2 separate regions of the Homo sapiens genome follow, and region 1 is linked to region 2. The links come from fine-mapping of genetic effects on gene expression. A gene starts in region 2. The other region holds a variant in brackets. All regions are shown on one strand. Distances are from middle to middle. Region 1 overlaps FAM20A (FAM20A golgi associated secretory pathway pseudokinase). Region 2 holds the start of FAM20A (FAM20A golgi associated secretory pathway pseudokinase).

Evidence for each region.
Region 1: its variant is fine-mapped to the expression of FAM20A in whole blood (TOPMed, PIP above 0.99). The same link has a PIP of 0.9 or more in blood mononuclear cells and fibroblasts.

What each region holds. Positions count from the first base shown.
Region 1 is chr17:68,572,519-68,587,866 of GRCh38, reverse strand. The region is part of intron 1 of FAM20A (FAM20A golgi associated secretory pathway pseudokinase); the gene reads left to right. Among named protein-coding and RNA genes, the nearest start is that of FAM20A, 21 kb to the left of the region's middle. The variant G/A (reference allele first, on the strand shown) is at 7,518.
Region 2 is chr17:68,595,361-68,610,708 of GRCh38, reverse strand. FAM20A (FAM20A golgi associated secretory pathway pseudokinase) reads left to right here and starts at 9,342. Exons shown (of 11, transcript NM_017565.4): 1 at 9,342-10,446. The coding sequence starts at 10,043.

The sequences.
Region 1 (15,348 bases), 23 kb after region 2:
TTATCTGTTCATTTATCTACAGGGCACTTGTGATAATAGTTGTTAAGATTATTAACACCATGAACATGTAGAGTCCTTTCCACTTCTTGAAGCTCTTTTAAATTGTATGTCATTAGATCACCACAGCAAAATATTGGTCTTTATAATTCGTAAGACTCTGGCCTGAAAATCTCCATGGAAAGGCATCCAGCCAATTGATGTTTTATTATGAAGCAGCTTGCCCATTGCCCCAGACTAACTGGGCTTTAGTTGTCCACAGTGGATTCCATGTAGGGCCTCTGGTGAAAACATTCGGCAGGAAACATAGGTGCTGCCCTTGCAGTGACACCTCCTAGAGGCTGAACCTCTTGGAGAGCTCTCCACTCTCCACTGAAATGGATAAAAATGCCCTCAGTGCAACTTAATGATATCAAAGCAACACAGGTAAAAATTTTGTGCTCCATAGGTATTATAATGATAATCATTATGTTACTTTAATGTAATGGTGAGAAACTGAGACTGGATCTTCTGGTATAATTTGCTGTCAGAAAATTAGATATATCATCAAGGATGGATTTTCTGCTACACACTTTGCTGCACTAGCCTAGACCCTGTGGCAGAGAACTCTCTGTGAGCTGTACAGCCAAGGGTGAATGCCCGAAGTGTCACACTCCCAAAACATTGGAGGTCAGTCAGGCGCGGTGGCTCATGCCTATAATCCCGGCACTTTGGGAGGCCAAAGCAGGTGTATCACCTGAAGTGTCAAGAGTTTCAGACCATCCTGGCCAACATGGAGAAACCCCATCGCTACTAAAAATACAAAATAAAAAATAGCTGGGCATGGTAGTGGGCACCTGTAGTCCCAGCTACTCGGGAGGCTGAGGCAGGAGAATTGCTTGAATCTGAGAGGCGGAGGTTGCAGTGAACGACATCACACCACTGCATTCCAGCCTGGATGACAGAATGAGACTCTGTCTCAAAAGGAAAAAAAAAAAGAAAGTTGGAAGTCAAGTCTTGAACCATCAGATCTCTTAGCATTGCCTGAGCAAGGTCTGAAAGGGAATTTGGTAACTATATTTGTTCCCTAGGGCTGCTGTAACAAATTGTCACTGTTTAAGCCACTGTGGGTGGCCTAAAACAACAAAAATGTATTATTTACAGTTCTAAAGGATAGAAATCTGAAATGAAGGTGCCAGAAGGGCAGCACGCCATCCAGAGGCTTGAGAGGAGAATCTGTTCTTGTGGCTGCCAGCTTTCACTGGCTTCTGGCTGCATCACTCCAATCTCTGCCTCCATGATCACATTGCCTCCTCCTCTTCTGTCTTTGTCTGTCTGTGTCTTCTCCTCCTCTATGTGGGTCTTTCTCCTATAAGGACACTTGTCATTGGCTATCAGGTCCACCTAAATGATTCAAGATGATCTCATCTCAAGATCCTTAATTTAGTTAAATCTGCGAAAGCCTTCTTCCAAATAAAGTCACATTCACAGGTTCCAGGGATTATCTTTTGGGGGACCATTCAGTCCACTTGAATCATGTTCCATGACAAATACAAAGGCCATGCAGTTACCATTTATCTTCACTCTTGTAAAAAAAATTTAATCTTTTAGATAAAAGATTATCTAGTAGATTATCTATACCTATATCTTTATCCAAGAGTTAATCTTTTAGGTAAATCACAAAATAATTCTGATATATCACAATATAAAATGGTTGAGAAAAATGTGCCAAAGGAAAAAGAAGGATACACAAGACCAGTGGAGCCAAGAGTGAGGAACTTCTCAGAACACTTGCCATGAGAACCTTCCCACCACAGAGTCAGCCCTGCTTGGTGGGGAGGAGCCACCAACCATGTCTATAAGGTAAAAAGCAGCCAGTGACCCAGGAAGGGCACTGGTAGTGACTAGGTAATTCACTGGTAATTCCTGGTAGTGACTAGGCAGATGAATACCTTCCTTGTCCTTCTCGCCTCACCTCCTCCAAGAGAGGACACTGTATGGTGTCAGGACTAGCATTTTCCATCACATCCATAGGGGAATTACCCAGCAATGGCTCTCAGTGAGTCTCTCTGCTAGCACTGTGCCCCACAGCAAATTCCAAAGTCATGTCCCAGGCACCACCCCACCCATTCGCGATCGTGGTGATCAAGCCTGCTTTCTTGTCTCATCTCAGGAGAGAATTTAAATTGCTGAGGCTCCAGAGGAAAGGGCAGCAGGCACATTCTTTGGGCAGCCCTCCATGAACCTGGATTTTTTCAGCAGGGCTTTTCACTGACATTGAGTGGCAGTGCATTTAGGATAAAACTTTCAGAAACACTTTGAGTGCAGTTTTTCAGGGTTGTCATTCAGTACAGAAAAATAACACGTTTTGCCCATGTACCCTAGAACTTAAAGTATAATTTAAAAAAAGAAAAATTTACATAAAACCTAAAAAAAAAATAAATAAAGCCATGGTATTGGTGGAAAAACAAAAAAGAATGTGTTTGCACGGATGAAGAGAGTGCAATAATACACAATGAAGACTCGGAAGTGTGGGAGGCAGAGGGGTTGAATAGAGGGATATTAATAAACATAGTGTTTGTTATTTGAAAAAAAAAAGAAATAGATTTACCAATTAACTGAACTTAGAGGTAGGAACAAAAGGCTCTTTCTGAAGTCATGGAGTCAAACAGGATAGGCAAGTGAACTCAAAGCCACTGACCTCTGTCTACAGGGAAGCCACAGGTCTAAGGGCCAGCCTAGATTCCCTTCAGACAATACCTTTGAATCTGCTGTGACAGGCGAGCCAGCGGGTAATCAATACCTCAAAGCCACATGCCATGGAATGTGGCTGCAAAATGTTTGGCTGGAAAAATACTCCAAGAGACTGTAACCAAACACCTACCTTAGGTATTAAAAAACATCAATAAAGCAACCATTGAATGCCTAACTTTATCAGCGTAACTCACCAGTGGCCTCTCTGGGTTTAACTCACTGCAAAATGTACACCCCAAGTAACTGAATGAGACGACATTCTGTTCTGTTATTAGCTATAAAATCATTAAAAGGCAGGGGAAGTCAGCCAAATATGATGAGCTAGGATTTATAGCAGTTGGTCCGCAGCAGCTCTTTTTGGCAGTTGTGAAGACAGTGGTCTGTTAAGGCTGCTTGCAGTTTATGATATTAAAGCCATTTTATTTGCATATAAGAAAATGCTTCTTCCTCCCTCTCCTGGCAGGAGATGCTATGCCCAACTCATCCAGAAGTATTATTTACTCATTAAGGCATAAATTAAGCTGATGAACCAGAATGGTCAGGCTCTACTGAAGATGTGAAGATGATCAGCAGGCTGCTTCTTGTCCTTTGCGTCTACTTTCAAAACTGCCCACTCAGAGAGAACTTTCCTGTCCTGCTGACCCACAGGGGTCCCAGATGTTGTCCTTACCAAGCCCTGTTTTATTTTCAGCTGGGCTCTTAACACCACTTAATGCCTTTTTGTGTATTGATTTGCTTAGTGTATAGCCTCATTAGATCTTAAGCTTTTTGTGTTTGGGTTTTTTTTTTGTTTTGTTTTGTTTTGTTTTGTTTTGTTTTTGAGATGGAGTCTCACTCTGCCACCCAGGCTGGAATACAGTGGCACCATCTCAGCTCACTGCAACCTCCACCTCCTGGATTCAAGTGATTCTCCTGCCTCAGCCTCCCAAGTAGCTGGGATTACAGGCGTGTGCCACCACACCTGGCTAATTTTTGTATTTTTAGTAGAGGCAGGGTTTCACCGTGTTGGTCACGCTAGTCTCAAACTCCTGGCCTCAAGTGATCCACCTGCCTCGTCCTCCCAAAGTGCTGAGAATACAGGCGTGAGCCACCACACCCAGCCAGATCTTAAACTCTTCAAGGGTTGAATTGGTTTGAGTGGTGGCTCTATTTTGCATTCCCTAGGATGGCCCTTGAGGTAGGCCGAATAATGGCTCCCCAAATGATATTCATGTTCTAATCCCCAGAACCTGTGACTATCATCTTTTTTTTGAGATGGAGTCTCACTCTGTCACCCAGGCTGGTGTGCGGTGGCACGATCTCCACCTCCTGGTTCACGCCATTCTCCTGCCTCAGCCTCCCAAGTAGCTGGGACTACAGGCACGCACCACCACGCCCGGCTAACTTTTTCTGTTTTTAGTAGAGACAGGGTTTCACTGTGTCTCGATCTCCTGACCTCATGATCTGCCCGCCTTGGCCTCCCAAAGTGCTGCAATTACAGGCATGAGCCACCGCAACCAGCCAACTATCATCTTATGTGGTTAAAAAAAACAGGTCTTTACAGATATAATTAAGACTCTTGAGATGAGGAGATCATTCTGACTTATCCAGTGACCCCTAAGTTCCATGTCAAGTGTCCTTATATGAGGAATGCAGAAGGAGATTAGACACAGACGGAAGAGGAGAAGACAACGTGACCACAAAGGCCGAGAGTAGAGTGAGGTGGTCACAGGTTGAGGAACACCAATAGCCACCAGAAGACAGAAACAGCAAAGAAGGGGCTTTCTCCTAGAGTCCCCAGAAGGAGCACAGTCCTATTGCTACCTTGATTTCAAACTCTCAGACTCCAGAACTGAGAGAAGGAATTTTTTGTTATTTACGCCACTAAGTTTGTGGTAGTTTGTTAGGGCCCCAACAGAAAACTAATAGAAAGATGGAGGCTTCTTTGTGTCTTCATCATTGTAACCCAGGTATCTAAAATGCTGTTTGTATATAGTAGGCACTCAACAAATATTTGGTAAATGAATGGTTAAGAGAAACTTGGCAGTCAGGCAACTCTGGGTTTAAATCCTGGCACTAATCTCAGCACTTTCGGAGGCCGAGGTGGGCGGATCACGAGGTCAGGAGTTCAAGACCAGCCTGGCCAACATGGTGAAACCCTGTCTCTACTAAAAATACAAAAAAAAAAAAATCAGCTGGGCCTGGTGGTGTGTGCCTGTAATCCCAGCTACTCGGGAGGCTAAGGTAGGAGAATTGCTTGAACCAGAACCTGGGAGACGGAGGTTGCAGTGAGCCTAGATCATGCCACTACACTCCATCCAGCCTGGGCTACAGAGCGAGACTCTGTCTCAAAAAAAAAAAAAAAAAAAAAAAAAAATTAATCCTGGCTCTTCCACATAAGCGCTATGCAGGGCCAAGGCTCATTTCCTCCAAGCCTCAGTTTCCTGGTCTATAAAGTGGGATGTAATCTGGACCCCAAGAGGTGGCTGGGAAGATGGAGTCAGATCATGTACAGAACACACTGAGCAGGGTGCCTGGTTTCCTACAGCACTGATCCTCAAGCAGATAAAGGACCACTGCTAGTTGATTATGCTTTAATATTCCTTACAGGTTATTTGATACTTATCGATATGCAGCCTTATCCATTTATGTTTGATGTTTGGGTGGATGATGATGATGAAATGGCTTTTGTGGCCTCCTGTTGTCAGGGAAAGGCACCAGTGCTTCCAGCCCAGCCATCGCCCTCACTTGACTTAGCTGCCTCTCATGCTTCTAGCGAGAGAGAAAACACACATATTGATCTCTCCTCCATCACTTCGACGTCAATTACCTAATGCTTGCAAATGGGGAGAAAACACAGAACGCAATCAATCTACTTATTTTGGAAACTCTGCCCCCCTTCCCCTCCTACATGCACATACCCTTCTCAGTGCAAACTGCTGAGCCCATGTTTCTCAATGACTTTCCTTGAAGTGACAGGAATTCTGCTGATTCTAGGAACAACTCTTTTTCTTTTACTAAAGCATTTATTAAACTGGTTAAACAGGCTAATCTCTGCTCCCTGGAGACCTTCCCTTCAAACCGTGCCTCTGGTGAGTCGGTGACACTTTGATGGCAGGTGACACTTGTGCGGCACTTACTCTATGTTAAGCACAGTGCTGACCACTTCACCCACCACACATTTACTCCCTGCAACAACCCCATAAGCAGGTACAGTCCTTATCCTCATTTTCAGATGAAGAAAGTGGCTCAGACAGAGTATGTTACACAAGAAACTGGATTTTGGCTGGGCACAGTGGCTCCCACCTGTAATCCCAGCACTTTGGGAGGCCAAAGCAGGCAGATCACGAGGCCAGGAGATCGAGACCATCCTGGCCAACATGGTGAAACCCTGTCTCTACTAAAAATACAAAAATTAGCCGGGCATGGTGGTGCACACCTGTAGTCCCAGCTACTCAGGAGGCTGAGGCAAGACAATCGCTTAAACCCGGGAGGCGGAGGCTGCAGTGAGCAGAGATCACACCACTGAACTCCAGCCTGGGCAACAGAGTGAGACTCTGTCAAAAAAAAAAAAAAGGAAAAAAGAAAGAGAGAGAGAGGAAAGAAAGAAAGAAAAGAAAAGAAAGAAAGAGAAAGAAAGGAGAGAAAGAGAAAGAAGAAAGAAAGAAAAAGAAAGAAAGAAAGAAAGAAAGAAAGGAAAGAAAGAAAAGAAAAAAAGAAAAGAAAGAAAGAAAAGAGAAAAAGAAAGAAAGAAAGAAAGAAAGAAAGAAAGAAAGAAAGAAAGAAAGAAAGAAAGAAAGAAAGAAAAACTGCATTTCGGAGATACCTTTTCAACTCCAGAGCCGAAACTCAACACTGAGTTTAACTTTATTTCATGTCTGAGCCTGAGTCCTGGAAACCAATTTGAGAAGAGATTTGTGTCCAGGAGGCTTAGTGAGCCATGCTGTCACAGTACACCCCTTTGCATCAGGGCCCAGAGATTATCGAGGCAGAATTACTCCCAGTACCCTGCTCTGGAAGTATAGGTTGCTTTCTCTTTCTGGAGGGCAAGTTGGCAATAAGCATCAGACGTTTTAAAAGTTATCCAACTCATCCCTCCTTATGCACCATAGTTTTTTATTTTTATACAAAAGTTTTTTGGTCTTCCTAATCAGGGGGAAAAATCATTATTGGTGGAGTATCTTACACATATTCAGATGTCATACTCGGGTGTCATCGCAACGCTGCCTTGTACTAGCAGTGCCACCTTGGAGGTGTCATTTTTGCTGCCTATATCTGGTTCCCATATGTTTACAATGGTGGTAATAATAATAATACTGACCTTATGAGGAGTTTCTGTGGGGGTGAAATGAGTTAAAAGAGCAAAGTGCTTAAAACTGCCTGGCCCCATGTGAGTGCCACATAAGAGGTAGTTAGCTATTTTCCTCATTCACACTGTAGGCCCATTTTGGGACACTGGTTCCTCTTGAGTCTGATTTTTGCTCACCAAGGCAGAAGTCCAGGTGGTTTCCACCCTGGGACAATCCATGATATGCCCCTTCTCATTCAAGTCCCTTCCAGTTCGGGGCCACTCCAGCTCAGAAGCCCCATGCCCCTCTCTGGGCGGGTTTTACTTAAGTGCTGAGCCAGGGCTGTGGTTCTATGAGGTCAGGATAAGGTTAAGGACACAGTTAGCTGGAGTGGAAACAAGAGGTGCATTGCAACATAGCATAAAACCAGCTCCCAGAAGAGGAAGCAATTGTATTTTAACGAGAAAGGAATGAGTTTTTGTCGGGAAACCAGCCCATTTCGGGAAACCAGCCCATTTC[G/A]CAAAAATCTCAGTAAAATCTTGGTACAGTCATTGCTTTCTCAACAGCAAACAGTTAATCAGGTTCTGTGTCTCCCCCCACCCACCACCACCATGATCTTTAAGAAGGCTCCAAGGAAATTCAAATTAAATTCTTGACAAAGCATTCGTTTCTCTGCAGCCACTGTGGAAGAGCAGAAAAAGCTCAGGTCACAACCCTGGCTTTTATTCCTCCTTTCCACTTATTATGTTGTTACTTCCACTTTGTGGACCTTAGTTTCTTTAAGAGCTTGAGGAGAGGAGAATAAGACAATAAATGGAAATAACCTAAAATGCCTTTATAATGAGATTTATGCAAATGCAAACTATTAATAGTATTAAATCAAAAGACACATCCTATGTTCAATAAGTACCAAGAGGCTGTGGCAGAGGCATTTTCTGCTCACCAAAGTCCACTTGTTCTCCCGTGTGTTCCAGCCCCCAGCAGTTAGTTGGGGTCATGTGACTAGTCCTGGACAATGGGTTATCAGTTGATGTGATCTGCGTCGCTTCCCAAAGCATTGAAGAGCCAGCACTTCATCTTCCAGTTCCTCTCTTTTCTTGCCCTGATGACTGTGAAGACCATTTGTTGGGATCTTGGTGTGTTCATCAAGCTGGGTCCCTGAGTCAGTGTGTGGAGCAGAATCCCTACTGACCTTCACGAGACAAGTAGCATGAGTGAGAAATAAGCTCTTGTTTTGAAAAGCCACTCCGATTTCAGGATTAAGCTGTTGCTCTAACAGAACCTACCCTACTCTCACTCAATAGGTAAATGAATTCAGATGGATTTTGCTCTACAAACTCAAAAATCAAAGTAACATAGCATTGGTTTATTTTTCAAAAGTCCAATCACTTTGGACTCTAGGCCCTCTTTTCTGTTTGGTTGGCTAGAAATTTAGTCTGAGTCATCACTGGAGCTCCTTACCCCAAGCCCCTCATGTTGGGTCAATGTCCTTAGGGTGTCTGGGAGCACATTTGAGGAGGACCCATAGTCCATGTTCCATCACCTGGTCTCGTGCAGGTGGGTGGCACTGTTGGTTCTGCATCAAGTTCAAGCACAGGATTATTGGCTGAGACTCGGTTTCTGGTGCCTAAAATGAGTCTTTCTCTGCACACACCTAACCGTTCCCCAGCACATTGGATCACCTCCAAGAAACAGGCCAGACACAGACCCCAGTCAACTCTCCTTTCCTAACCTTGGAGTCTCTTCATGCTTCCCCAAAATTCTGTGCTTCTTTATGCACTTTCACATTCTCTGTTAAATCCCCCTGCCTAGCAAATGCCTTCACTGAGCCTAGACATGTTTTTTTTTTTTTTTTGAAACAGAGTCTCGCTCTGTCACCAGGCTGGAGTGCAGTGGCGCGATCTCTGCTCATTGCAACCTCTGCCTCCCGGGTTCAAACAATTCTTCTACCTCAGCCTCCTGAATAGCTGGGACTACAGGCACCTGCCACCACGCCCAGTAATTTTTTTTTTTTTTTTTTTTTTTTTTTTGGTATTTTTAGTAGAGACAGGGTTTCACCATGTTCACCAGGATGGTCTCGATCTCTTGACCTTGTGATCCGCCTGCCTCGGCCTCCCAAAGTGCTGGGATTACAGGCATGAGCCACTGCACCTGGCCGAGCCTAGACATTTTTAAAAATCCAAGGAAGGAGTGAGAGAAGCCTGGCTACCTGTCTAAACTTCCCCTTGGTCCTGGATCCTAAAAACACTCTGAGGCAAGGAACACAAAGGCCCAGCTATCTTCTGAGAACAGGGGTGGGTAAAATTCCGGAAGAACAAAAAACACATTAATATCTCAATAAATTATCCTACCACATGGGTGACTGGTCATGCTGAGGAGGAAAGGAGGCCAACATTTGCTATCATTCTCTTGGTTTGCAAATCAGGTGGAAAAATAATACCACGCAAATTAGCACTAGCTCACAGGCCAAGGACTTGAAAGAATTTAATCTGAGTGAGCCACAAGGAAATTTGCTTATGAACCATGAAAATATGTGCCCCAGCCTAACCCCGTATTGTACCCACCTACATGCAGATTCCCCAACATTCAAATCCATCTCTCTTTCAAATGCCCATGCCTGTATGATAGGCAGTAAGGCAGAATTCAGACACTTTTGAAAATAAATATATTCTGGTAAACCTTTGATTATTAGAGGACCCAGGGGGTGGATTTTTAAAGCTCCTGCTTTGTCTTGGTTCTCTCAGAGTATTGCCTTTACACCACGTTTCTTCTTTTTGCATTCAGGAAAATGGTAGAGGAAAGAGAGGACACCTGTCTATCCAATGTCACTTGCTAATAGTGTGCGTGTGTGTGTGTGTGTGTGGTGTGTGAAATATATATTTATTTATTTTAGGATTACACAGTTGGAAGATTGAAAAGCACCACAATGATGACATTTAAATAAATCAATATTGCATCTTTTGCAACTAACACGTGTGTTAGTGTTTTATCAATATGCTTGTTAGGTTGGTAGAAGTCTGACAACTAAATGCTTGCTGACTCAAATTGGTTTTCTTTTTTTAAACAATTAAGTAACATTTTTAATTTTTGGCTGTGCAGAAGCTATAGAAGGAGTGGAGAGGCTCTGAGGAAGGCTTTTACGCGTCTATGGAAAATATTAAATTACACCGAGTGCAAAATCCATCAGAGCAATTTTCAGGCCATCATCAGAGGATTAAGTGCTTTATTTGCTCATTATTCTATGGCTCTAGCCCAGGATTTCTAACTCAGCATTACTGACATTTGGGGCCAGATCATTTTCTCTTGTGCAGAGCTGTCCTTTGCATTGGAGAATGTTTACAACAGCCCTCAGCACTCTCCCCACCAACTATGACAACCAAATATGTCTCCAAACATTGCCAAATGTCCCCTGAGGGGTAAAATCGCCCCCAGTGGCGAACCACTGGTCTACAGCAGGGAGGCAACAGTTCTGCAGAAAGGGAGATTCTGCAGCTGCAAGGCCCCTGTGCTGCGTGAATCATCACATCACAATTAGGTTGAGGAGCTCCGCAGTCCAGCTTTAATATTTCATGTTTCCCAAAATGTGTCATGTACCATGCAGAATAGAGGGGAATTGGTGTGTGCTACGTAAGGAAATGGTTTAAGAGATGTCCTCTGAGCAGGAGCCGTCATGGCAGGACTTCTGCAAGCCTTGACTGTCTTTCTGCACATGGTCACTCCCCTCAGAGTGGTCACCGTTGGCAGCTCTTTCTAAGTTTATTTGTGTGGAGCTAGATGTTTTGGATCTTAGCTCTATAGCCAAAACAAGAATCTGGGAAACTTGGCCCGGATAGAAGGCATCTGCTAGTTCCCTGACTGGACTCTGGGGACTCTTAGATGAGGGATCATTCTTTCATTCTTCTCCAGGGTGTCTGAAAGTTGTTGTGAGGGTAGATAAGCAGACTTTTTACTATAGACAGAGTCCCAGCTCCTAGAATGTCCCTCCTGGCCTGCCCTAGGCAACTAGCTCAGCCTGGGGCCATTTTGACTCAGAGCTGTTAGGCTATTCAAAATGAACAGGGCTGAGCAAAATCAACAGGGCAAGTCTAGCCACTTTGATAAAACCATTTAAAACAATCATATTTTGATTCCTAATTTTTTCTCAGATTTGCTCATCAGTTAAGCAAGTCGTTTTGTCCCTAGGTCCCCAACTACATGTAACTAACGTTTTCTGTAGTACCCACCACTAAGTGTCTGAAAGGTGTCTACAGCGAGGATCTCCCTGCCCAGACTGAGCACCCTCACAGCATTTATGGACTTACAGGTCTCTCTCCCTGGGGAGGAGGCTGGGACAGTCAGAAGGGAGCCTTGGGCTCAGGGCTGCAGCATGAGGAGCCAGGAGGTGCCAGATGGACCATGATGCAGTCAGCACGTAGGGTCATGATGAAGAGCTTGGCCTAGGAAGCCAGTCGGCCAGGTCCAAATCACTGCACTGTGCCTGCCACTCACCAGGCAGGTGACCTTGAGCTAGCTCAAGTCAGTCTCCTCATCTATAAAATGGGCTAACAATGGACCTGTCTTATGGGGCTGTTGTGAAGAGTCATGAGCCAGCACATGTGAAGTCTTCATAAAAGGTGCTGGCAGAGAGCCATGGCTCCAGAAATGGTGACAATTATTACATGTGAGGTGTGGGGGATTGAAGCAAAGAGTGCTTGAGGCAGGTATGGGGGCAGGGTCTAGAGAGCCAGAGAGGACCATGGCACTACGAATTTGGAGCTGGCTGAGCACTGGGCTTTTGTACTCTTATGGGAGCTTGTTCCATTGGCTGGCCAGACCCATTTAAAGGGCTCAGCATGCAGCCAAGTTTCAGAATTCGGGATGAGATGAAGAAGCAAGAACCTCTCTCCAGCCTAACACCATCCACTTCCCCAGGGTTAGCTCCTGGGCAAGGGAAAGGCCATTCTTAGGGGGCGCCCTTTGGACTTGGTTCTCAGAAACAGCAGTGCCTAAACATCACGCCCTGCCCGGTGGCAGCTGTAACTGCCAATGGCTGATTATGTGTGTGTGTGTGTGTGTGTGTGTGTGTGTGTGTGTGTGTATAATATAAAATATACAATATATAAAATATAAAATATATATAATATATAAAATATATAATATATAAAATATAAAATATATAATATATAATATATATAATATAAAATATAAAAATATAATATATAAATATAAAATATATATAAAATATAATATTCTATATTATATTTTATATATAATATAGAATATATTATATATAATGTATAAAATATAGAATATATTATATAATATATAAAATATATATTATATAATATATAAAATATATATTATATAATATATAAAATATATAATATCTAATATCTATAATATATAATATATAAAATATATTATATATAATATATAAAATATATAATATATAAAATATATAATATATATAAAGTGAAGACATATATATATAAAATATATATATATATGTAAAGTAAAGTGAACCTGTGTTGGCCAGGTTGGTCTTGAACTCTTGGCCTCAGGCAATCCTCCTGCCTTGGACTCTCAAAGTGCTAAGATTACAGGCATGAGCCACTGTGCCTGGCCTGCTTGTATATTTGTAAAAGCCACCAGAACACATTATTACAAACTGACTGGCCTAAAACAACATAAATTTATTGTCTTACATTTCTGGAGGCCAGAAGTCCAAGCTCAAGATGTATGCAAGGCTGTGTCCCCTCCTGAGGCTCTAGGCGAGAATCCATTTCTTATCTCTTTCAGCTTCTGGTGACTCCAGGAATTTCTTTTTTAAAAAAATATTGATACATAATAGTTGTACCTATCGACTAGTGGCCACCTCATGCCAGTCTCTGCCTCTGTGGTCACATTGCCTCATCCTCTTTTCTCTGTCTTCTTGTCTATGTGTCTGTTTTATAAGGGTTCTTGTAATTACATGTAGGGCCCACCCAAATAACCCAGGATCATCTCTCCATCTCAAGATTCTTACTTTAATCATATCTGCCAGCCCATCTGGACACATAGGGTATGTACAAGCCCAGAGATTAAGACGCAGATCTCTTTGGGGGCACCATTATTCAGCCTACCCCAGGGACCATCCTAGGGAATGCCAAATAGAGCTCTTGACTTCACCTTGGTAAGCAGAACTCAGGTAACTGGGAAATTAAGCAGAAGTTGGAAATAATTCTTCACAGTATTCCTTCCCCTTTGTAAAGGATAAAGTTACCAGTACTGAGTCCCAGAAGTCACAGTAACAATAACTCACATGATGTTACGGTTTGAATGCTTGTCTTCTCCAAAATTCATGTTAAAACTTAATCTCCAATGTGGCAATGTTGAGAAGTGGGGTCCTTAAGAGGTGATTGAGTTATGAGGGCTCTACTGTCATGAATGGATTAACTCATTTATGGATCCATGGATTAACAGATTAACGGGTTATCGTGGGAGTGGGTCTCATGGTGCTATAAGAAGAGGAAAGGAAACCGGAGCTAGCACACTCAGCCCCCTCGCCATGTGATGCCCTGCACCACCTCAGAACTCTGCAGAGGATCGCTTAGGCCTAGGAGTTTGAGACCAGCCTGGGCAACATAGGGAGATCCTGTCTCTATAAAAATAAACAAAATTAGCCGGGCATGGTGGCACACGCCTGTGGTCCCAGTTACTTGGGAGGCTGAGGTGGGAGGATCACTTGGGCCTAGAAGGTTGAGGCTGCAATGAGCCATGATAGCTCCACTGCAGTACAGCCTGAGTGACAGAGTGAGACCCTGTCTCAAAAAAAAGAACTCTAGAGAGAGTTCCCACCACCAAGAAGGGTCTCATCAGATATGCCCCTCAACCTTGGACTTCCCAGCCTCTAAAACTGTAAGAAATAAATGTGGTCAGGTGTGGTGGCTCACACCTGTAATCCTAGCACTTTGGGAGGCTGAGGCAGGCGGATCACCTGAGGTCAGAAGTTCAAGACCAGCCTGGCCAACATGGTGAAACTCTGTGTCTACTAAAAATACCAAAAAAATTAGCTGGGCTGGGCATGGTGGCTGGCACCTGTATTCCCAGCTACTTGGGAGGCTGAATCACTTCAACCCAGGAGGCAGAGGTTGCAGTGAGCCAAGATCACACCACTGCACTCCAGCTTGGGCGACAAGAGCTTAACTCTGTTGAAAGAAAAAAAAAGAGAAAAGAAAGAAAGAAAAGAAAGGAAGAAAGGAAGAAAGAAAGGAGGGAAGGAGGGAGGGAAGGAAGGAAGAAAAGAGAGAGAAAGAAAGGAAAGAAAGGAAGGAAAGAAGGAAAAGAGAAAGAGAGGGAAAGAAAGGAAAGAAAGGAAGGAAGGAAGGAAAGAAGGAAAAGAGAAAGAGAGAGAAAGAAAGGAAAGAAAGAAAGAGAAAGAAAGAAAGAAAGAAGAAAGAAAGAAAGAAAGAAAGAGAAAGGAAAGAAAGGGAAAGGGAGAAGTGTTATTTCTTATAAATTGCCCAGTTTCAAGTATTTTGTTATAAAGCAACAAAAAACAGGCTAAGAAACATAAACTTTAATTCATTTAATCCTCACTAAAATTCTATAAGGTGGGTACATTTATTATCCTGACTTTTCACATGAGGTGAGGCGCAGAGAGGTTAGATAACTTGCCCTAGGTCACACAGCTGTGAGTGGCAGAGCCAGGACTCGGGATGAGGGATCTGCCTCTCCCACCCTTTCCCCTTTCTAGATTCACAAACCCATCACTAATGGTGACTCTGATTTACAGATACAGCAGCATTTACCACCTATCACCTGCTCCTTAAAATCAAGCTTTGATTCATGAGCTAGCTGAAGCAGATAATCTTTCAGGGCTGGAAGGACAGCCTCCAAAGCGGGGGTGCATTTCTCTTTGGGGAGGTGACATGAGAAGGAATTGGGAGCTCACTTTGGGGTCTAGCAGATCACTGCAGCTCCGGCCCACTCACATTGCCTCAGAGCTTTGTTTGGACTTCCCTTGGCCTCTAGGACACAGAGATAAATGGGCGAGGAGGCAGATGAACAGAAAGGGAAGCAATGAGAAATATGTTTTTTGAGCCCATGAGATGGAGCGGTGGGAAGAAGTCAGTCAACAATTCTTAAAACAAAAATAAATAAATAAATAAATAAAATTAAAAAGAAAACAGAAACAATTCTTCAGCCTGCTTATGACAACCCATAGAATTCTGATGATGAGTCAGCTCGTTCTGCTGAAGATGCATTTTGGGGAGAGTTGATCGTTCTGCATAATTCTATCATGAACACAGGCAGCCGGCACAAACGCAGTGCTGAGGTTTCAGAAATGAAGCCCATTCCAACAGTGAACACCAAAAAGCCATTTCCAAAA
Region 2 (15,348 bases):
TCACTCTTTCTTCAGTGTGTGAGGATACAATGAAAAAAGGGCTATCTGCAAACCAGGAAGAGTGTCCCCATCAGACACTGGATCTGCCAGCACCTTGATGTTGGAATTACCAGTCTCCAGTACTGTGAAAAATAAATTTCTTTTATTTAAGCCACCCAATCTATGGTATATTTGTTATAGCAGCAGACTGACTAAGACAGTATTCATTATTCTCATGCATGTTTTTATAATTTTACCAATTTTTTGTTTGTTTCTTTTTCAGAGACAGGGTCTCCAGGCACTGGAGTGCAGTTGCATGATCATAGCTCACTATAACTTCAAACTCCTGGGCTCAAGATATCCTCCTGCCTCAACCTCCCATGTAGCTAGGACTACAGATGAACACCATTGCACCTGACTAATTTTTAAAATTTTTTGTAGAGAGGGGTCCTATTATGTTGCCCAGGCTGGTCTCAAACTCCTGGCCTCAAGTGATCCTCTCTCCTTGGCCTCCCATAGTGCTGGAGTAATAGGTGTAAGCCACTGTGCCTGGCCTAGTTTGCCAGTTTTGAAGGTTATCTAAATAGTATCATACTGCTACACACACACACACACACACACACCCCATATTCATGTTTTCTTACAACTTAAAGATGTATCTTTGCTGAGAAAATACAGTTGTACTTCCTTCATTTTAACTGCTCATTACATAATAATACCACAATTTATTAACATATTTCCCTATAGATGGATGTTTACTTTTTTGTGCAATTATTTGCTATTATGAGCCAGGCTACAGGCAAAATTCTTTTGGATGGAGGTATGCAACCTTTGTTTTTTATTTTATTTTATTTTGTTTTAACATAATTGAACAATAGGGCCAATAAAGTTGCCCTTTTTTTAATGTACAGTTCTGTCAGTTTTAACACATGGATGGATTCACATGACCACCATCATGATAAGGATATAGAATAGTTCCATCACCCAAAACAACTTCCTAATGCTGTACCTTTGTAGTCATACCTTCATCACGGTCCCTAATGCCTGGCAGCCAATGATCTATTCTCTGTCACCATAGCTTTTCCATTTCTAGGCTATCATATAAATGTAATCATACAATATGTAACCTTTTGAGACTGGATTCTATCACTCAGCATAATGCCTTTGAGATGCATCAATGCTGTCATGTATACCCATATTTTGTTCTTTGTTGTTTCTAAGTAGTATTCCATTGTATGATGTACAACAGTTTATCTATTTGCCCACTGAAGGACATATGCACTACTTAATGTTGGCAATTATTAATAAAGCTGCTATAAAACTTTCATAAGTAGGTTTTTATGCACACATAAGTTTTCAATTCATTTGAGTAAATACCTAGCAGTGGATTACTGGGTCATGTGGTAAGTACATGTTTATGTTTTCAGATGTTTGGAGATTTACCAGATATCTCTCTGTCATTTATTTCCAGTCTATTTCTATTATGAGCAGAGAGCACAGTTTGTAAGATTTGATTATATTAAATTTAAATGCTTGTTTTATAATGGAGGATATAGTCCATCTTGGTAAATGTCATGTACACTTAAAAATAATGTGTATTAGGCTGCTTTTGAGTGAAGTGTCCTATGAATGTTAAATTAGATTTAGTTGGCCAATAGTATTTTTCAGTTCTTCTATATCCTTGCTGATATTCTGTCTACTTGCTCTGTGAGTGGCAGAAAAAGAAACACTAAAGTCTTTAGCTATAACTGTTGAATTTTCCCATTTATCCTTTCAGTTTTATCAGTTTTACTTCATGTACTTTGAAGCTGTATTGTTAGAGGCATACACATTTAGAATTATTATGACTTCTTGGTATATTGTCTTTTTGATTGCTACTTTGAGTAATACTAATATAATTATGCCAGATTCTTTTTAATTAGTGTTTGCCTGATATGTCATTTTCTATCCTTTTAAGTTACCAGTGGTCATATATACACCGGGTTTCTTGTAGGCAGCATAACATTGAGTTGTTTTTTAATTCATTCTGAAAATCTCTGTCTTTTAATTGGTGTGTCTAGGCCATTTATATTTAATATAATTATCAGTATGTTTGCATTTAGGGCTACCATTTTATAATTTGTTTTCTGTTTATTTCCTATATTTTTGTTCTTCTTTCCCCTTTTCTGCTTTCTTTTGTATGATTTGGGTAATTTTAGTGTTTCATTTTAATATATTTATTATTTTTATTATGTCTCTCAGTATAGTTTTTAATTTTATTATATCTCTTAGTACAGTATAGTATTATAATCTAGGAATTATAACATATATACTTAATGTTTCTCAGCTATTTGGAATTAATATTTTACCACTTCAAGTGGAATGCAGAGTTCTTACCAACAAACAAGTCCCTTTACCCTCTTCCCTTCGTATTGTAGTGGTCATACGTATTACGTCTCTGTATACTGAATCTCTATCAGATAATGCTATAATTTTTGTCTTCAATTATTAGGTATATTTTGTAAAACTTAAGATGAGAAAAAATAATCTGTTATATCTACCAATATTTTCACCATTTCTGTTGCCCTTCCTTCATTCCTGATGTTCCAGGTTTCCCTCTGGTGGCAGTTGCCTTCCATCTGAAATCTTTCTTTAGCATTTTTGTTAGAGCAGGTCTGCTGGTGATTGTTTCTTTTAGTTTTCTTTCATCTAAGAATGTCTTTACCTCATTTTCACTCCTGAAGGAACTCAATGCTGGAAGAGAACTTTGAAATTGTCTACCACAAAATAGTTATTTACACGTGAGGCAAAGGAAGCCCAGAGACATTAATTAATTTGTCCCATGCCACCAAACTAGTTAATGACTGAGCCAAGATTACAGTGTAAGCTCCCTAACTCCCAATCCAGTGCTCTTACTCTTCCTACAAAATGCCTTGGTTTGCTTTCTCAAGTATTTGGTTTATACTGGAAATAAAGTTGTGTGAAAAGGTCTAGATTAATATATGCTTAGTAGAAAAAAAAGTAAAATTCTCATTCTTTAGAGCTGAAAAGGACATTAAAGATCATTCACTTCAGCGTTTCATGTTTCAAATGAGGCAACTGAGATCCAGGGAAGGTAGTTCAGTTTCCCAGGGGAAATTTACCAATAAGTACAGCCATGACTTTTTATAGCAAGATCACACTACATACCCATCATTTGTAAAGAACAGGCACTTATTTGTTTATTTGTGTTCCCCAGTAGCAATGATGGGGAAACACGTACTCTCTGTCTCTCTCTCTTTAGCGCCTTAGAACCTTATGACACAAGTTGGATGGCCAATGTTAGACAATGGATCCTACCTAGCCTATTTGGAATCAAATCTGTGACTTTGCTCTCATTAGCACTGTCCTTTCAACCAGTGATTCCCAAACTTCAATGTGTGTCAGAATCTTATAAGCTGGTAAGAATCAGCTTATTGAAAATGTACATTCCTGGCCCCACCTCCAAAAAATACTAGAACTATGGTGTGGCCCTGGAATTTGCATTTTTATAAGCACATCAGGTACTTCTGATCCACAGGCTGCACTTTGAGAAATCTCTGGCTTATGCTGAGGCATTATGTGTTGGTCACGATTAGAAAATTTTGGACTTTCTACCTCAGAATAAGGTGTTGAGTGCAATACTAAATCAGTTTCAGTTTCTTAAGTTCACTCCATTCTAGGTCTTCCATTTATAGTAATTTCAATTGCATCTCTTGCTGATTACTGAGACAGCTAGCAGGTAAAGGTAACATTCCTCACATGCATCTATACTATAATAAAAACTGTGAGGGACATAGATGTCTACATTTAGTTATTTCTTTATGTGTCTCTTACTTATTGGTTTTTCAATAGGATCAAGGCAATTTCCATTGATGTTCTAAGTAAACATCTACTGGGGCCAGGCACAGTGGCTCATGTCTGTAATCCCAACACTTTGGGAGGCTGAAACAGGCAGATAGCTTGAGCTCAGGAGTTGGAAACCAGCCTGAGCAACATGGTGAAATCCCATCTCTACCAAAAAAAAAAAAATTAGCCAGGCCTGATGGCATGAGCCTGTAGTCCCAGCTACTCAGGAGGCTGACAGGTGGGAGGATCACTTGAGGTCAGGAGTTCAAGGCTGCCATGAGCCAGATCACACTCTGCCACCCTGCACACCAGCCTGGATGACAGAGAAAAACCCTGTCTAAAGAAAAAAAAAACCATAACGGATGTTTAACTTAACACTTATGTAGATGTTCTAACTTAACACTTATCTTGAGCTAGATTATATACATTTATGTTCTTATTTTAAGTGCTCTTTTCCAAACCACTTCCCACCTCCATGTATGAACACACATAAACCCACAAACATCATTTATTCTGCAGGAATTTGTTAATTCTCATTTGCATGCCTTGCTGTGTCTAAGATCCTATGAAGACAGGAAAATAAAAAAGAAAACATGTTACCCTTGAACTCATGGAGTTATAGTCTAGTATAGAAAACTGCCTACACAAACAAAAAACAACTAGTCAAGTTCTAAGCAACACGGGAACATGGGCAAGATAAAAATAGAGTCTAACCTTCACAGATAGAGGAACTTGGTGTTTAAATGTTGACTCTATTGTTTTCATGATTTAACTCCTGCAAGTAGAGAGCTTGATATTTAGCTAGACTGAAAGGAAACACAACTGCCCTTTGCATTTGCTCCTCTTAATGCATGCAATGGCACAGATTGCTAATCTGCTCTGTGTACTACCTCATACTTTTTTCCCATTGGCTTGTGAGTACAGGTATAGCTGGACTCTCTGATGATCACAAGACTCTTGAAGGCAGGAAGGAATTGTGTCATATATTTCTTTATGTCTCCTACAGGGTCCAAAGCTATGTCATCTTATTGTAAACAATAATTTAGCCCCTACTGTATACTAGGCCATATGCGAGATTCTACAGTTGTAGAGATGGCCAATATCTCTGCCTTCACTCAGCAAACATTTCTTGAGCATTTCTCAAATGATAGGCCCCATCCTCAGAGCTCTGTGTACATATATAAGTAGCATTCTCCCTCTACACTCAGGAGTAGTGCTCCAGTGAAGATGGCAGACATGTGTACTGTGTAAATTTGCAATGGCTGCTGTAACAAAGTGCCACAAGCTGGGTGGCTTAAGCAACAGAAATTTATTGTCTCACAGTTCTAGAATTATAAATCCAAGGTCAAGGTGTCAGTAGAGTTGGACTCTTCTGAGGGCTGTGAGGGACAAATTTGTTCCATGCCTCTTACCTAGCTTCTTGTGTTTGCTGGCAGTCTTTGGTATTCCTTGGCTTATAGAAGAATTGCCCAATCTGTCTTTTATCTTCATAGGGCATTCTCCCTGTATGCATGTCTCTGTGTCCCAATTTCTCCTTTTTATAAGGACACAAGTCATATTGCATTAAGGGTCCACTCTACACTAGTACGCTATCAGCTTAACTAATTATTTCTACAACAACCCTATTTCCAAATAAGGTAACGTCCTGAAGTATTGGAGGTTAGGATTTCAACAAGTGAATTTGAGAGCAGGATATAGTCAACCCATAACACATACTAAAAAGGAAACCCAACATGGCCAACGTTGTAATAGGGGAACATATGAGGAGCTGTGGGGGCACATGAGAGCACAAGGCACTGAGTTTAATGGGTATGAAGACAAGCATCAGAGAAAAATTGGACAAGTGGCCAAAGCTTGGGTGGACTAATGGGTGTTTTCCAGGTGGGGAAAGGAGAAAGAGCTTTCGGTTAAAGACACATCTGTGAGAGGTTGTGTGGGGAAAAGCAAGAGAGATCAGATTGTTACTGTGTCTGTGTAGAAAGAAGTAGACATAGGAGACTCCATTTTGTTATGTACTAAGAAAAATTCTTCTGCCTTGAGATTCTGTGACCTTACCCCCAACCCCGTGCTCTCTGAAACATGTGCTGTGTCAACTCAGAGTTGAATGGATTAAGGGCGGTGCAAGATGTGGTTTGTTAAACAGATGCTTGAAGGCAGCATGCTCCTTAAGAGTCATCACCACTTCCTAATCTCAAGTACCCAGGGACACAAAAACTGCGGAAGGCCGCAGGGACCTCTGCCTAGGAAAGCCAGGTATTGTCCAAGGTTTCTCCCCATGTGAGAGTCTGAAATATGGCCTCGTGGGAAGGGAAAGACCTGACCGTCCCCCAGCCCGACACCCGTAAAGGGTCTGTGCTGAGGAGGATTAGTAAAAGAGGAAGGAATGTCTCTTGCAGTTGAGACAAGAGGAAGGCATCTGTCTCCTGCCTGTCCCTGGGCAATGGAATGTCTCGGTATAAAACCCGATTGTATGCTCCATCTACTGAGATAGGGAAAAACCGCCTTAGGGCTGGAGGTGGGACCTGCAGGCAGCAATACTGCTTTGTAAAGCATTGAGATGTTTATGTGTATGCATATCTAAAAGCACAGCACTTAATCCTTTACATTGTCTATGATGCAAAGACCTTTGTTAACGTGTTTGTCTGCTGACCCTCTCCCCACAATTGTCTTGTGACCCTGACACATCCCCCTCTTCGAGAAACACCCACAAATGATCAATAAATACTAAGGGAACTCAGAGGCTGGGGGGATCCTCCATATGCTGAATGCTGGTTCCCCGGGTCCCCTTATTTCTTTCTCTATACTTTGTCTCTGTGTCTTTTTCTTTCCTAAGTCTCTCGTTCCACCTTATGAGAAACACCCACAGGTGTGGAGGGGCAACCCACCCCTACAAGGTTGGAGCACTTGGGAATTGCAGAAAGTCTTGTGGGGTGAAGACGAAAGAGGGGGCATATAAAGAAGAAAGGAGGTAGAAGCCAGACCACGAAGAGCTGTGTCACAATGAGTGACCTAATCCAGCAACAAGGAGAAGCTCAGGGGGTTTTCAGGAGGAGAATATCCTGGTTGCCTCTGCATACTAGAAGTCTCACTCTGGCAAGAGTGTGTGTGGGCACTGAACTAAGGTACCATGGAAGCAGAGGGACCAGTTAGAAGCCTATTTGCAAGTATGAGCAAGAGATTATGAGGCTCTAGATACATCAAGATCAGTAGAGATGGAAAAGGAGGGAGGGGCTTCCAATGAAAGATTTTAAACAGAATGATGGGTCCCAGCAAACAGCAATTTAGGATACCTTCAGTGTGAACGGAGAGGATGTATGTGAGGCTGGCAAGTAAGCCAGGGCCCAAGACATGGAAGATCGGAGGAGCAGGAGAAGGCTCATTTCTAGGAGGGGTAAAGGTAGATTAGAGGCAAACCTGAGGAAGCCAACATCCTATTGGCCAATCCTACTGGTAGGATTTCCACTCTCCTATCCAGCTTCATTCACACTTAATATCTAACTCCCACATGCAGTTCTGCACTTGACTGTGACCTTTAAAGGGCATGGAAAATATGTTTACATAATTTCCAAGCAAGTTACACTATTGTTCCCTAAATTGGGGCCAGAAAAAAAAGAGTCTACTAAGCGAGTATGACCCCATGGGTTGAGGAGAATTGAAGTCACAAGACCTGCAGTGTCACCACATCCACGTCCTTTGCCAGCCGAGAAAAATGCGCATCAGTTTGCCACACAGTTACTGCAGTTACATCACCACCATTCAATGCCTGACTTCTTCATTCGCTTGCCATGACATCTAATTAAACACATTAGAAGTTGCAACGTCTCTCAGAAATTGGAAATCAGTTAAAATTTAATTCCAGATAAAAAGGAGGAGGTTCTAGAACCCCTCAAAATGCCCACCATCATACCCAGAGGAGTGGAGTAGCTGGGAATAGTACCGTCTTGGGCTTTTTCACTTGGACTGGGCACTCAGGCCACAATGTTATGCCCCTGAAAGCAGGTTCCTTCCTGCTATCTTCCTTTTCCATCCTTTTCTATTTTTGTCCTAGCGATGAGCAGTCTCTAACCAAGCCTAGTGTACTACAGGAACTAATAAGTAATCATAATGATAGCAAACACATATTTCACACTTATTTAGGATGAGTTAGGAGCTCTTCTAAGTAATTTATACATAGTCAAGTGCCACATAACATTTTAGTCAATGCAACAGTGGTCCCATAAGATTACAATACTGTATTTTTACTGTATGTTTCCTATGTTTAGACACACAAGTACTCACCACTGTGTTACAACTCCCTACAGCATTCAGTAGTCGCATGCTGTACAGGTTTGTACCTAGGATCAACAGGCTATGCCATGTAGCCTCCGTGTGTAGTAGGCTGAACCATCTAGGTTTGTGTAAGTACACCCTGATGTTCACACACACAGGAAAATTGCCTAAGGATGCATTTCTCAGACGTGACACATAATTGTACTTCAATTCATTTAAGTCTCATAATAACCTTAGGAGGTAGGTTCCATCATTATCTTCATTTACATTTGAGGAGACTGCAAAGTCCCGAAGAAATCTTACACTGAACCACGGGGAAAAGAACTCTGGTCTGAACCCACAAGTCAAAGTATGTCTGAGGGTTCTCAATTCCAGCAAGGGAAGGGAGGGGGTTAAAGAGTAGAACTAACTTACATGGGAAGCTTTGCTGCCTGGGCAAGCAGCTTCTGGTGGATTTCCTGAAATTCAGCAGGGTGGGGCCGCCTCTCCAATCAGACTTCACTTTACTATACTATGGGGTCATTAAATAGAGGAGCCAGGAGTTCAGGACTCCCTCCCTCTTCTTCAAAAGGAAAACTGGGTGTGGGGAGGGTACATTACCTCACAGAATATTGGAGAAAGCCTAAATGTGTCCTCCAGTGATTCATTTGGGTGGACTACTTTCACACCAAGCTAAACTCAAAAGTTCGGAGTGGGGTCATCAGGGCCCCTCCCTCCCTGAGTGCAAGAAACATTTCCTCTTTTTAAAGTACAGGCAGAGTTGGAATCAAACTCCTTCCAAACAGGAAATCAGCAAGATTCTAGGTAAAACTGATACCTTACTTTTAAAGGTCAAGCTCTTTCCTTCACCAAGAGCGTGTTTCCTGAGCACCTACTATGTGCCAGGCATGTGGTAGGTAGTTGTTATGAATCTTGATGTGCCCTGCGCTCTGCAGGGGGGCGGAGGTGGAAGGGAACACAAAGAAAGAACAGATACCAACACTGCCACCCCCGCCTCCCCCCACCCCCCCCCACACACTCATTTGGCAAAGCTTACAGGAAAAAAAGGGTTTTAGGGGGCTTGTGGTGGTTTTTTTTTCCCTAAAAATAATAGAAATGGTAAAAAGAGGCTTCGGACCCCTCGCGTGAGTCCCTTAAAGTGACTGGATTGAGACCTGGGCAGGGAAAGTGGGAGGCCCGAGCGAGGGGGAGGGCGCAGGCAGTGGGTGGGTGACAAGGTGCAAGGGCAGCGCCGGCTTCGGATCGGGAGTTGGCCGTCAGCTGCGCCAGAGGCAGGTGCCAGCGGAGAGTGGGTGGGGGTGCCGGCGCCAGGCCAGGCTCGGGGAGGCCCCGCGCTACCTCTGCCTCTAGGAGTCCAGGCGCACAGACAAGCTCCCCGGAGCCGCTCCTGCTTCGCCAACTCCCCACTCGCGCCGCCCGTGCCAGCCGCCGGCACTGGCGTCTCCGCCGCCCGCAGGAGGAGTCGCGGGAGCACTAGCAGCCGCCGCCGAGCGACAGCATCCTCAGGAGAGACGCCCCGGGCTTTGCAGCCGGCGGCCTCCGTCCGCCCTCCGCGGTCGCCCCCCGCCCCGTCGCCCGTCCGCCCGCGGTGGCAGCCGGCGCCGGCGCCCCGGGGCCCTTCACCTGCCGCGAGCGTCCGGGCGGGCGGGCGCACGGGAGAAAAGGCGCAAGAAGCGGGCACCCCGGGAACCCCATTCCCTCGGCTCACTCGGCGCGGAGAAGCGACGCCCGCTGACTCCGAGAGCCCCGGTGCTCCGTGCACCTGGTCCCCAAGTTGAGGAGCGACACCCCTCCACAGGGGACTAGCCCGCGCGGGGAGCATTCCGGTCTCACTGACCCCGGCCCACCCGCGGGACTCCAGGCACCTCTTCTGCCCGCACCCCGCGACCCCTCCCGGGACCCCGGAGACAGCCGGCCTGCCCCCGGCGTCCCCCTTGGCCAGCACGCCATGCCGGGGCTGCGCCGGGACCGCCTACTGACTCTGCTGCTGCTGGGCGCGCTGCTCTCCGCCGACCTCTACTTCCACCTCTGGCCCCAAGTACAGCGCCAGCTGCGGCCTCGGGAGCGCCCGCGGGGGTGCCCGTGCACCGGCCGCGCCTCCTCCCTGGCGCGGGACTCGGCCGCAGCTGCCTCGGACCCCGGCACGATCGTGCACAACTTTTCCCGAACCGAGCCCCGGACTGAACCGGCTGGCGGCAGCCACAGCGGGTCGAGCTCCAAGTTGCAGGCCCTCTTCGCCCACCCGCTGTACAACGTCCCGGAGGAGCCGCCTCTCCTGGGAGCCGAGGACTCGCTCCTGGCCAGCCAGGAGGCGCTGCGGTATTACCGGAGGAAGGTGGCCCGCTGGAACAGGTGAGGACCCCGCCCGGGACGCGGGAGAGCGGGCGCTCTGGCCGGGGCCTCCCCGCGCCCCAGTCTCGAGTTTCCTGACGCCCCCGGCCCAGGGCTGCAGCGGCTCCACCCACGGCTCCAGCCCTGGCGCTGGGCTTAGAGTGTGTTCCCCACCCGAACCCCACCAGCTGTTGCAGACCTCACAGTCCAGTCCCGGAGTCAGATAGTACGAGGAAAAAGTTTCTATTGCAGCCGCACAGCGAAGAAACGCTCTCAGCCCCTTCCCCTTGAGCGCCTGGGTCGTCGTTGAGCCCCACTCCTGCTCCCTCGTCCACTCCCGCTCCCTCGTCCGCTCCCAAACCCCACTCTCTGTCCTGATGTGGAGGAAAGCTGCCGCTGGACTTCGGGTTTCCAGAATGAGGCCCCAAACAGGGTGACTCCAGAGCTAGTTGAAATTCAGCACTTAACTGTGCTCTTTGGGTAAACCTGGGCGCCTTCCAGAAAGCATGTTTCTCCCCAAAACCCAGTTCTTTCCCTTTCCTTATTCCTCTGCCCAGTTTCAGAGATCACAAGGGGGTCATCTGAGGCAGGAAGTAAATGGTCAGTTCTCTGCCGCAGCCACCCCATTGTTCACATTTAAAACGCGGCTTGGGCCCATCCAGCAAGTATTAGAACTTGAAGGCACTTTTATCGTCTTGTATGATCCTGGTGATTTGGACTGACTTGGATCTGCGGCTTGATGCTTCCACAGACGAGAAAAAAATCTTTCAGGGAATTTTTTAAACCCAAAGCAAAATACAGAGGAAAAAATATCAAATATATTTAGGATAAAATTAAGAATCTTTCTGGAAAAGGATGGGGGTGTTAGGGAAGGCAGCACGCTCATTACTGAGATCCCTTGCTAGTGGCAGGAAGCCTTCGTATGAGTTAAGGACTCTGTTTTGAAGTACAGAACTTGTCTAAATACCACTCACATGCAGAGTTCACTATCGCACCACACCCATCTCTTTACTTAATACAAGAGATTTCAAAGTAAGATGTCATCGGTGGTTTTATGGTCCCTCCAGAGGATGAGCAGACCATAAATCTCTCTTGAAACTCAGAGCTGGGCCAATTTAACTGTTTGCTCATTATTTTGTAATGCTGAGATTGAAGGGAGAAAAAAAAACCTTCAGAAATTTTTGCAAAGGAATAAGTTGAGTTGTTGGCTGAATCACTGTGGTGAATTTCAGTAGTAACTCTACGGCTCACATTTTATGTTAGAAAGAAAGTGATTCTCAATTCCACGTTAACTGTGTGCAGTAATAAAAGGCAGTTTGAGATTGCTTCTCAGACACTGTCATTTTCAATATTATCTTTATTTCGTCAATAACATGGAAGTCTGGCTTAGTGAACCAGGAAATTTTGCCCTTAGAAAAAGTATCTATATGTCTACTATGGATCTGAGAATGAGAGACTTTGGACAAAGTCACTTGCTTTTGTAAATGTGATCAGCATTCATTTAGTCACATTTCTGTGGTCTTAAACTTCCCGGTGTTACTTTGGACCCGAAGCAAAGTCCAGGGGAATATTATGGCAGAAAAGCAAAAATCTTTCTCACCAAACTGTTCTACAATCAGTTTTAAGCTTGATTTCTACACCATTATGTGTCAACAAAGACAAAAAAAACTCGCAAAAACACACATACTTTCTGACCAGAAATGATCTTGGTCATTTAACAGAAGATCAAGTGGGGGCTGGTGACCTTACTATATTCAGAGATCACAGAGTAGTTTTGTGTGGTTGCTCAAATGTGACATTTTCCCAAGTAAGGTTTGTGGGCCACAACAGGAGGACCCGCTGCACTTATAAATGTTAAAACTGGACCTCAGAGGCAGAGAACACTCTCCTTCCACCCAAACTGGATAGTAAATGTTAACATGAACATATTAATAAGCAGATGTGTTGTTACTTATATCAGGGTTAAAAATGAAACACAAGGCCGGGCAGGGTGGCTCACACCTGTAATCGCAACATTTTGGGAGGCAGAGGCAGAGGGAGGATCACTTGAGCCCAGGAGTTCAAGATGAGCTTGGGCAACATAGTAAGATGTCGTCTCAAAAAACAAACAAAAAAAATAGCCAGTGGTGACACATACCTGTAGTCCTAGTCACTTGAGGGACTGAGACAGAAGGATTGCTTGAGCCCAGAAGGTTGAGGCTGCAGTGAGCCATGACTGTGCCACTGCACTCCAGCTTAGGTGACAGTGAAACCTTGCCTCAGAAAAAAAAAAAAAAAAAACCATACAGAAGATTCATTAGCCAGGGTGAATTTGAGCCACACTCAGAGTTCTATTGTGAAAGGGAGTCACTCATTACCTTAAATGAGAGTGCTCCCTGCCAAATATGAGGATGTAGCAGTGCTGATGAAGACAGGGGGCCTGCCATTATGTGCAGGGTCGAGGACACCCCTAGATCCTAGCAGCAGACAAATAAATAGAATGGACAGCAGAGGAAGAAACAATGAAGGACCTTGCTAATTGTTTTTCTCTTCACAGACAAGCTCTCCTTGTTTGTAGCCCTGCCAATATTTAAAATCTAGTGATTTATAAACATATGAGGGCCAGGCACAGTGGCTCACACTGGTAATCCCAGCACTTTGGGAGGCTGAGGCAGGCAGATCACCTGAGGTCAGGCGTTCAAGACCAAACTGGTCAACATGGTGAAATCCCATCTCTATTAAAAATACAAAAATTAGTTGGGCATGGTGGTGGGCACCTGTAATCCCAGCTACTCAGGAGGCTGCGGCAGAAGAATCACTTGAACCCAGGAGGTGGAAGTTGCAGTCAGCAGAGATCGTGCCACTCTACTCCAGCCTGGGCAACACAGTGAGATTCCATCTCAAAAAAAAAAAATGTGGATGCCTCCATGCCAATACCTAACATGAAGTCCTATCCAAAATAATTGTATCAGCAAACTGTCCACCACACCAGGAGAAGTACAGAGAATAAAATAAGCCAAATCAGTGTTCTTCGCCACTTGCCCACAAGAGACCATTAGTCTGAGTGATTTTTTTTTTTTTTTGTAATTTTGACCATCATACTAATAAGAAATGGTATGAAGTCAGAAAGTATCCTTCCACAATTCAAGCTCATTACCAATAAGAGGTAGGTTATGGTGTGTCTCCCCACCTCCCCACTCACCCACACGTTCCTTTTTGATTTCACACAATGGAAGATGACATTTGTGCAGTTTTGAATGTCTTGGGTTTTTAATTAATATTTGTTCACTGGATGTCAACATTTAGACATGTAGTTAAGTTACAAATGGGAAGATGTGTTGATTTTTAAGGTGGGCTGTCTGTGTGCTATCTGGCCCTGAAGCTTTCTGCAAACCTCCTTCACTCACTGTTCTTCCCTCCCTTCCTTTCTTTTCCCCCCAAAAATGTAACTAAGTGTGGCACAATCCAAGTTAAAAATGTAATTAGGGAAAGTGTTTCTGTCAGGTGGTCAGCTGCTGATCACAGCCAGCCAGCCAACGCCAGGCTCCATCAAGCATGATGACACATTTGGCACCTGTATTGAACAGTGACGAGGAAAGTGCACAGGGAAGAAGGGAAATGAAGTCTTCACTTTCAGGCCATACACTAACAAGCCAGAATTGTGCTGCTCTTAGTCCTTTGCTTGAATAAGTGATGACGCAGGGCAGGCAGGCTTTACCTGGAGCACAGGTGATGGTTCACACTGTTGCTCGCCTTTGCATTCTTAGATACTGAGCTTTGGATTTCTTCTCTGGCCCACAAGCTGCCCAAGTCAGACAACATCTGTCTTTTGACGTGTCAAACTGATCAGCTTGGCCAGTTTTGCCCACATATGATTGGCCTTTTGGCCACATATCTTTGGTCAGTCTCTCTGTAACCCTCTGGTCTCGACAGGCAAGGTCAAACAGGGTCAGCTCTCCCTAATGTAGAAACCCCAGCAGCTATAACACAAATATGAGTTTTTGCTTTTCTTTCTTGACATCTTCCTCAGATGTCAGGAAGGTTATATTGTCTTGCAATTACAGATTCAGCATTTCTTAGGGGTGTGTGTGTGTGTGTGTGTGGTTTCCCACATCAGAAACTCCTGTCTTCTTCACCCCTCCTCCTACCTATTGCTGTCACTGAAAGAAAACCTAGTCCTGGGTCTCTCTTTGAAAATCACCGCAAAGAGACTGGGCAGCTTTTCAAAAATGACAGTTGGTCAAAGGGAGTAAGTTGGCTGAAGTTTTTCTGGGGGATGCTTTGAGAAGATCCAGAAGCCAAGGCAGATAGAGGAGAAGGGTGGAGAAGAAGTCAGGAGAGATGAAAAGGAATTCAGCTAGAAATAAGAATTGCCTCGTCTAGGAGCTTGGGGAAGATAAGCTCCTCCCTGCCCCAGCTCCCCCATGGCATCTGTGGAAGGAAAAATACAATCTCTCCATTCTCACTCCCATCTTTTTATCTCTGTCCTGCTTATTTTGTGCCTGCCCTAGAACGCTCTGAACCTAGATTTCTTGTGAGCAGGCAATTCAACCCGCAGGCTGGATGAAAGTCCAGGTTCTTACTCATGGATGGTGGCCATTTGCTTCTCTCCCAGAGTCAACAGGGCCTTGGCCCCTTGTTAGATTCTCCCGCCAACAATGCTAAGCTAAGACAGGAAGTGGCCTCCTGTGATTTGGAAATGGACCTCAACCACGGCCCGTGTGTGGTTAGCAGAGAGAGTGGGGAGCCTGACTTCCATTTCCCATTTCTCCCAATTAGAGCCTTGCTGGACTAGTTTTGGAAAAGATATTATTTTAGTGGTTTCCAAATCCCTGAACTTGTAGTTGGAGGAAACCTCTCCACTCCTCTCAGAATCAAAAGCTTCAAGCAGATGGTTTCTGAGAGGGCTGGTCCAGACGGCCATTATCAGGTTTTTTCTCCCTC